2 linked regions of the Homo sapiens genome follow. The protein of the gene in region 1 interacts with the protein of each later gene in a pairwise test. Each region holds a gene or a part of one and is shown on either strand. Other genes may lie near its edges. The genes, in order: KALRN and MORC3.

Region 1 (4,564 bases):
TTCTCACTTATAAGTGAGAGTTAAACAATGAAAACACATGGACACAAAGAGAGGAATAACAAACACCGGAGCCTACTTGAGGGTGGAAGGTGGGAGGACAGAGAAAATCAGAAAAAATACCTATCAGGTACTATGCTTATTACCAAGGTGATGAAATAATCTGTATACGAAACCCCTGTGACACACAGTTTATCTATATAACCCATACATGTACCCCTGAACCTAAAATAAAAATTAACAACAAAAAATAAAAATAAAAAGAAGAAGAAGAATCCCCAGCAAGAGCCTAGGCTAGAGACCAGAAGTGTGGTGACAGTCAGTGAGCCAAGCATAGAGGGCCACACAGGGTGGATGTAGTCCTTGACCTACCCCCTCTTGCAACATGTTACAGGTCATCAGTCATTTCCAGCCTCATGCACCAATGACTTAACCTTTCTCTGATACTAAGTGCACATCAGACTTAGCTCAGCCACTGGGCTGCCCAAGGAGGAGGGAGAATATCCCCAACATAGGAATCCCACAGGAGACTGACCCCAGTCTGCTATTTATTCTGTGATTTGAGCCAGGGTTAGATAATGTGTGCCACACCTTGTGTTTTGAAAGGCCCTGGGAAAAGTAACACATTGGACTATTATTGGCCATTAACACTGTGTGAATTTATTATCAGAAATAAGCAAGCCTCCAGGAACTGAGCTCTGCTACGGGTGCCTGGAACAGAAAATGAACAGGACCTAGTGTTTGGATGATAGGAAAGGGGAAAGAGGAGTGGGCACCAAAAGGTAAAAGTGGAGTCCAGAAAGGGAAGGTGGGAAGGCTCACACTTCAAGATTTTTCCCTCAGAGCTAAGAAAATGCAGACTTTTGCCCCAGTTGGGAGGCAAGGGGGGTCAGCTGGGTTTTTGATTGACTGGTCAATTTGTTTCTAGTCCCAGTTATGAATTCCCATATCTCCCCTCCTCTGCCTCATAATGAGTATTTCTGAATATCACTTAGCCCCCAGAACCACCTTTTCCCTAGATTCCACCTCTTTAGAATCCATGCTTTTGGGTGCTGGGCTGTGTGTGTATGAGAGAGAGAGAGAGAAGAAAGAAAATAGAATCCATGTCTCGGAAGAGGAAGGAGGGAAGGAAGGAGGAAGAAAGAAAAGGAAAGAAGGCTTAGACCTGGGAAGCAGAATAGAATGACAGGGCTCCCTCTGATTTCCCCAGACCCTGGCACCAGCTCCTGTCCTCCAGTTTTTTCCTCTGCACATCAACTAGAGAATGAACATATGAGCCAATCAAGTCTTGACTTCCAAAGCCACAAGTCTCCCCCGCAAAGCACCCCACCCCCTTCCCTAGAGATGACCTCCAGGGCAAGGTAACAGGGTTAGGAAACAGATGGATGTGCAGAGACCCTCCAGAGCTAACCTGACCCCTGACCCCCACCAGTTCATGTCCTCTAATCCAACTTTCCAGAAGGGAGAGCAGATGCATGGGGCCCCGGTAACTTACTGGACTCCTTGGGACAAAGATTCCAGACAAAACTGTTTCAGACATGTGGGGAGATGGGGAGCTACACACAGAAGCTGGTGGAAGCCACAGGTACAGGGAGACGGGGAATCCCTGGCCATCAGAGAAACAGGGCCACAGGTGGTGGAAGATAAGGGTGGTCAGTGCCGGTTCTAGGGAGGGACTGTGTAGCCAGGGAGCAGGAGGAGCAATGGACCCGGGACTTGGACGATGGCAGGGGCGCAAAGAGCTAGAAAGACATCTCAGGGCTCTACACCTCACAGCAAGCAGAGACTTAGTGGGTGTGTATGAGAGGGACGCTAACTCACACTTCCAGGAATGAGTAATTCTTATGAATAGCTCCTCCGTTCCCAGAACTGAAGAGGAGGACAAGGGGGAGGTCCGAGGCGCCCACCGCCCTCCCAGCTGGGTCTGCCTCTCAAGTCAGAGGGACCAGCTCCCCACACGCACCAGGCGAGACCGATGTCTTCCGCCCCACTCCTGTCAGTCTGCAGCCGGCGCGGCTCCGGGTCCCCGCCGCCCCTCTGTGCACATCAGGGCCCCGGGCCCCCGACGGCGAGGAGGGGTGCCGACCCAGGGCGGCCGCCGGGAGCCCCGCTGACAGGCACAGGGGAGGGGGAGCCAAGGGAGGGGCCGGGACGCCGGTAGCCGGAGCGGCGCGCTGCAAAGTGAGCCAACACCGCCCATCCCCGCGCTCTGGGAGAAGGCGGTCCGAGGGGACCGCCTCCCACCTCCCCAACACAGACTCCCGCAACTGGGGTGAAGGCGGAGGGGCGCGGAGTTCCCAGCCCCCACGCCCTCCCCAGACGCAGCCAGCACTGCCATAACAACCAGAATCTCGGCAACTCCAGCCCCGACGCCGAGGGGGCACTGCCCCCCAACACGCACGCGGCAGCAACAGCCCTCCTTCCCCAAACTTGTCCGAGACGCCGCGTCCGAGGCAGTAGCCTTCAGCCCTGGCCCCCCGCGCCCTGCCCGGCTTACCTGTCCGGAAAAAGGCGTCCACGTCCGAGTCTGCTGCTCCTCCTTCCTCCGCTGCTCCCTCAGGGGGGTTCATGACTGTGGGAGGGCGTCCGCGGGCAGCCGGGAGCCGAAGAAGCCTGGGGCCGAGGGCTGCTCGGCGCCCGGTGGGCGGAGGGCGCGGGGCGCAGCTGCTGCGGCCGCAGAGCTGGCGGCCGCGGAGCTTCGAGGGCGGGCGTTGGGCGGCGGGGCTGGGGCAGAGGACGCTGAGCCTCCCTCAGGCGGAGGCGCGCGGCGGGCTGGGGGTGCCTGCCGCCAGCTCCCCCATGGTACCCCTTCCCCAGGGCGCTGGCCGCCTGCTGTCTGGCTGGGGCCGGGGCCCGGGGCCGGGGTGCGGGCTGCCTGGGCGCCCGCTGTCCCCCAGCAGCGGCAGCTGGCTCTCCTGCTCGCCCGTCTGCCTGTCTCTATTGTTCAGCCCTGCTCCGCTCTCTCCTCTTTATTTTTCCTCCTCCCTCCCACCCTCCCTGTCTCCCTACCTCCTCCCTCCCTCGCTCACTCGCTCACTCGCTACCTCCCTCCTTCGCTCGCTCGCTCTCTAGCTCCCCCTCTGGCTCCCGCCGCCGCCGCCGCCGCAGCAGCCGCCTCCCCAGCTCCTCCCCCGGCTCCCGCTCCCTCAGTCCCGGCCAACAATGACCCCGGGAGCGCCGAGCTGAATTGAAGCTCCGGCCGGGGCCGAGGGCTCGCTGCGGGCCCCCGGCGGCGCCTACGCCCCCAGTCCCAGCGGCCCCGCGCCGGCCTCCCGGGGAGCGGAGCCCGAGTCCCGAGCTATTGTTCGAGGCTGTGCTAGGCCGGCTTCCTGAGCTCCGCAGGAAAAGCCCGGGCCAGGGAGGGGGCGGGGCCGCCGGGCGAGCCCGGGGCTGCAGGGCACACGCCAGGCTTGTCCAGGGGGCTCTGCGGCCCGGGCGCTGCGCGCTCAGCTTCTCCGCTCGCGCCGCCGGTGCTCCTCCCGGCCCCGCGGCCACCTCCTCCGTCCACTCCACTCCCAGGTGTGTGAGGGGACCACCAGGCTGCCCGCCCGCCTTCTCTGGATCTTCAGATCGGTCTCCAAGCTGGACTGACCTGTCCCTAGAGGCCGGCCTTTCTTCCCCTCCTTCCTGACGAGCTCTCTTCTGTCTCCCTGCCCTCCTGAGCCTCTCACATTTTCCTCACCAGCTCGCCACAGTTTCTCTCCTTTTTATCTTTTCTCGTCCTTTTCCCCTTTTCAGCGCCCCTTTAAACATCTCCGCCTGTCTCTGTGACTCTTTGTCCAGTTTAATGCTCCTGTGATGTCTCCCTGCCTATCTCTCCCTCCCTCCGTCACTCTCTTGTCCCTCGTTTGTCTCTGTCCTGCCTCCGTACTTGGCCCGTATCTCCGCGCTCCTCTTGGACAGCTGTCAAAACTCTCTAATCCCTGGGGCCTTCTCGGTTTTGTTCTCCCTCATGTGAATGGAGAGATCCAGTTGGCCAGGAGGAAGGAGGTGTTACAGCAAGCTGAATTTCAATTAAAGTGGGGAGAGGGGCTGGGGAGGAATGGGGATGGCTGCAAAAAAGAAAACAGATGCTGTATGGGGTAATTAATGCGGTGATTGTATTGTGCCCATCAGTTTTTAAGCAATAATTAAACAATAATTAGCCAGTAGTGTGTTTATGGTTCTAGTGACTACAGAGCCCACCAAACAGAGGGTCTTTAAGACCTGAGTACTTAATAAGGTCTGCTGAGCGCTGTTCGCTGTTGCCTCATCCAGACAGATGGAGAAGTGGTGGCCTGACCTAATGTGTTAAAACACGCCTAATAGGAAAACCAGGTACTGGTCTGAAGTTAATGACTGCAACCCATCAGACAGAATCTCCTGGATCTGTTTGTCTCTAGTAACCTGTTTGGTTCCACCTCTCTCTGGGGGCCAAGGCAACTGGGGCCTATGCAGATCCACCAACTGTGTAAACTTGTAGCAAATAAAATGAATTAAATTAGTTTTTAGTGAACACTTTCTGGCTCCCTGTACGCATCACGTTCTTCACTGACACAAACAGTCTAATTTTTTTTCACCCATTAAA
Region 2 (3,805 bases), on another chromosome or scaffold:
CAGGAGAATCGCTTGAACCTGAAGGTGAAAGTTGCAGTGAGCCACACCACCGCACTCCAGCCTGGACAACAGAGCAAGACTCCATCTCTATATAAATAAATAATAAAATGTTTATTTCTTACTGTGCCTTATTTATAAGTTGAACTTTATCATACATATGTATACTGCAGTTTTAGGAATCCACTGAGGGTCTTGAGATGCATTCTCTGAGAATAAGGGGAGACTGCTGTACTCCTATCAGTGGAATTATACAATATTTGACTTGTGACTGCCTTATTCATTAATGTCTTCACGGTTCATCCATGTTGTAGTGTGCGTTAGGATTTCCTTGTTTGCTTAAGGTGAATATTTTATTGTATGTCAGAAGACAACATTATAAATTTAAAGATTTTTTTTTTTTTTTGAGACCGAGTCTCGCTCTGTCGCCTAGGCTGGAGTGCATTGGTGCGATCTCGGCTCACTGCAACCTCTGCTTCCCGGGTTTAAGCGATTCTTGTGCCTCAGCCTCCCTAGTAGCTGGGTTTACAGGCACCTGCCACCACGCCCGGCTAATTTTCGTATTTTTAGTAGAGACGGGTTTTGCCATGTTGCCCAGGCTGGTCTTGAACTCTTGACCTCAGGTGATCCGCCCACCTCAGCCTCCCAAAGTGCGGGGGTTACAGCAGGCGTGAGCCAGCGCGCCTGGCCTCAAATTTAAATTTAAAGATATTAATTGGCTTTATTTCTTTTTTTTTTTTTTTTTTTTTTTTTTTGAGACAGACACTCCCAGGCTGGAGTGTAGTGGTGAGATCTCTCAGCTCACTGCAACCTCTTCCTCCCATGTTCAAGCAATTCTCCTGCCACAGCCTCCTGAGTAGCTGGGATTACAGGCGCTCACCACCACACCTGGCTAATTTTTTTGGCTTTTGGTAGAGACGGGGTTTTGCCATGTTGGCCAGGCTCGTCTCCTAACCTCAAGTGTTCTGCCCGCCTCAGCCTCCCAAAGTGCTGGGATTACAGGAGTGAACCACCGTGCTTGGCCTTTATTTCCTATTCTGGAATTGGGCAACACTTCTTCCATAAAATACAGTAAGTGTTCTAGTGAACTGAACAGAGGAGGCTGGCTTTGTAGACAGAAAAAGGCCGAAAGAAAGCAGAAACAAAGAACAAAAAGCAGATACGTCATTTCAAAGTTAAAAACAATAGATAAATAACTGACTGACATTAGGTTACTTTTTGTTGTAAAACAACAAAATGGAGGGAACTTATTATCTGTCATACCAGTTGATGACTGAAACTGACCTGTTCGGTAAATTGGCTGTTATCTCCCTTGATTTCGCTGAAGGTCAGATAACAACTTAGTTTCAGTTTGGTGACTGAAATTTTAGCATGGGTGACTCCATTTTGATTTTTAGTCTGTTTTTGGAGGCCTAGAGCAGGAGCTTAGTCCAAAACAGTGGCCTCCTTTTTTGTTTTTTTTTTTCTGAGACAGAGTCTTGTTCTGTTGCCCAGTCTGGAGTGCAGTGGCATGATCTTGGCTCACTGCAACCTCTGCCTCCTGGGTTCAAGTGATTGCCATGCCTCAGCCACCCAAGTAGCTGGGATTACAGGTGTGTGCCACCAGGTCTAGCTAATTTTTGTATTTTTAGTAGAGACGGGGTTTCACCATGTTGGCCAGGCTGGTCTCAAACACCTGACGTCAAATGATCCACCTGCCGCGGCCTCCCAAAGTCCTGGGATTATAGGTGTGAGCCACCACGCCCAGCTGTCCTATATTTTTTATTTCACATTTACATACATTTGATATGATCAAAAATGTATATTTGTTCTTTGTCCTGGTTCTTGGCACTGGAGTTCCTGAAATCTTTGGTATTTCCTGATAACTATGAGTGGAACATCTTTTGTTATTTATAATAATAAGCCCCCCCCCGCCTTTTTTTTTTTTTTTTTTAACCACACCTTAGTTCATGCTCCCTCTGTCGCCCAGGCTGGAGTGCAGTGGCGCCATCGCAGTCTCCACCTACTGGGTTCAAGTGATTCTCCCGCTTCAGCCTCCCCAGTAGCTGGGACACAGGCGCGCACCACCACGCCTGGATATTTTTTGTATTTTTAGTAGAGACAAGGTTTCGCCATGTTGGCCAGGCTGGTCTTGAACTCCTAACCTCAGTTGACCTACTCACCTCGGCTTCCCAAAGTGGTGGGATTACAGGCATGAGCCACCGCGCCTGGCCAATTTTTTGTATTTTTAATAGAGACAGGGTTTCACCATGTCAACGAGGCTGGTCTTGTACTCCTGACCTCTGGTGATCCACTTGCCTCAGCCTCCCAAAGTGCTGGGATTACAGGTGTGAGCCACTGGGCCCAGTCTGTAATATCCTTTACATTGTATCTTTTAGCTTCCCTGGGCCACATTGGAAGAATTGTCTTGGGCCACATTGGAAGAAGAATTGTCTTGGGCCACACACACATAAAATATACTAACGATAGCTGATGAGGTAAAAAAAAAAAAAAGAAAAAGAAATTGTAACGATAGCTGATGAACTACAACAACAACAAAAAAAATCACGAAAGAAACTTCATAACGTTTTAAGAAAGTTTACAGGCCGGGCAGGGTGGCTCATGCCTGTAATCCCAGCACTTTGGGAGGCCGAGGTGGGCGGATCGCCTGAGGTCGGCAGTTCGAGACCAGCGTGGCCAGCATGGTGAAATCATGTCTCTACCAAAAATACAAAAAAATTAGCTGGGCGTGGTGGCAGTTGCCTGTAATCTCAGCTACTTGGGAAGCTGTGGCAGGAGAATCGCTTGAACCCGGGAGGCAGAGGTTGCAGTGAGCCGAGATTATGTCATTGCACTCCAGCCTGGGCAACAGAGCGAGACTCCATCTCAAAAACAAAAAAAAAAAAAGAAAGTTTACAAATTTGTGTTGGGCTGCATTCAAAGCTGTCCTGGGCCACATGCATCCCATGGGGGCTGAGGGTTGGACAGGCTTGCTTTACAATGAATCAGTGTTTTTTTTGGGTTTTGTGAGCATTATAGCACATTATCAAACATGAGGGGAATCATGTGAATGCCCAATTTATGGTTGGTCTGTCAGAAGTACAGGAGACTAAGGGTTTATAGTAGTTGACTAATTTCTCCTTGTTTGGTAGTATAAACCAAAAATAAAATTCTAAGGCTCTTCCAACCATTTTAATGGACTTCCTTCTCAGCCAGGGCACTCTTAACATTTAATCTGAAAGACTAGTTCAGGCCATGACAGGAAGTTGGGGTCAGACCTGCTTCATTATACTGCTCTGGCGTAACATCACATAACAAGGAAAGAAATAAAAATAATTCTAAATAGATTTCCTTGTCATATCTTGAAATTGCCTTGCAAAGTTTGTCTCTTGTGGAAAAAAATGTACATTGTGTAGAGAATCCTCTTTTCCCTTTTTTCTTTTCTTTTTTTGTTTTTTTTTGTTTTTGTTTTTGAGACGGAGTTTCGCTCTTGTTGCCCAGATTGGAGTGCAATGACCTGATCTCAGCTCACTGTAACCTCCGCCTCCTGAGTTCAAGCAACTCTCCTGCCTCAACCTCCCAAGTAGGTGAGATTACAGGCATGAGCCACCAGGCCCAGCTAATTTTGCATTTTTAGTAAAGATGGGGTTTTATCATGTTGGTCAGGCTGGTCTCAAACTGCTGACCTTGGGTGATCCACCAGCCTTGGCCTCCCAAAGCGCTGGGATTACAGGTGTGAGCCACCAGACCCGTCCTGAGCCACCGCACCTGGCCATTCCCTTTTTTTTTTCTTTCCAGATCCAGGAGATAATCAATTAAGAGTCAGGCA

Evidence for each region.
Region 2: the proteins of KALRN (region 1) and MORC3 interact in a two-hybrid assay, tested with the Homo sapiens proteins (one large-scale study listed by BioGRID and IntAct).

Annotation. Positions count from the first base shown.
Region 1 is NC_000003.12:124,031,744-124,036,307, reverse strand, and holds the start of KALRN (kalirin), read right to left. Parts: upstream 2,940-4,564; 5' UTR 2,568-2,939; coding exon 2,495-2,567; intron 1-2,494. UniProt on the Homo sapiens protein: Promotes the exchange of GDP by GTP. Activates specific Rho GTPase family members, thereby inducing various signaling mechanisms that regulate neuronal shape, growth, and plasticity, through their effects on the actin cytoskeleton.
Region 2 is NC_000021.9:36,326,431-36,330,235, forward strand, and holds part of MORC3 (MORC family CW-type zinc finger protein 3), read left to right. Parts: intron 1-3,477; exon of another isoform or gene 3,478-3,563; intron 3,564-3,805.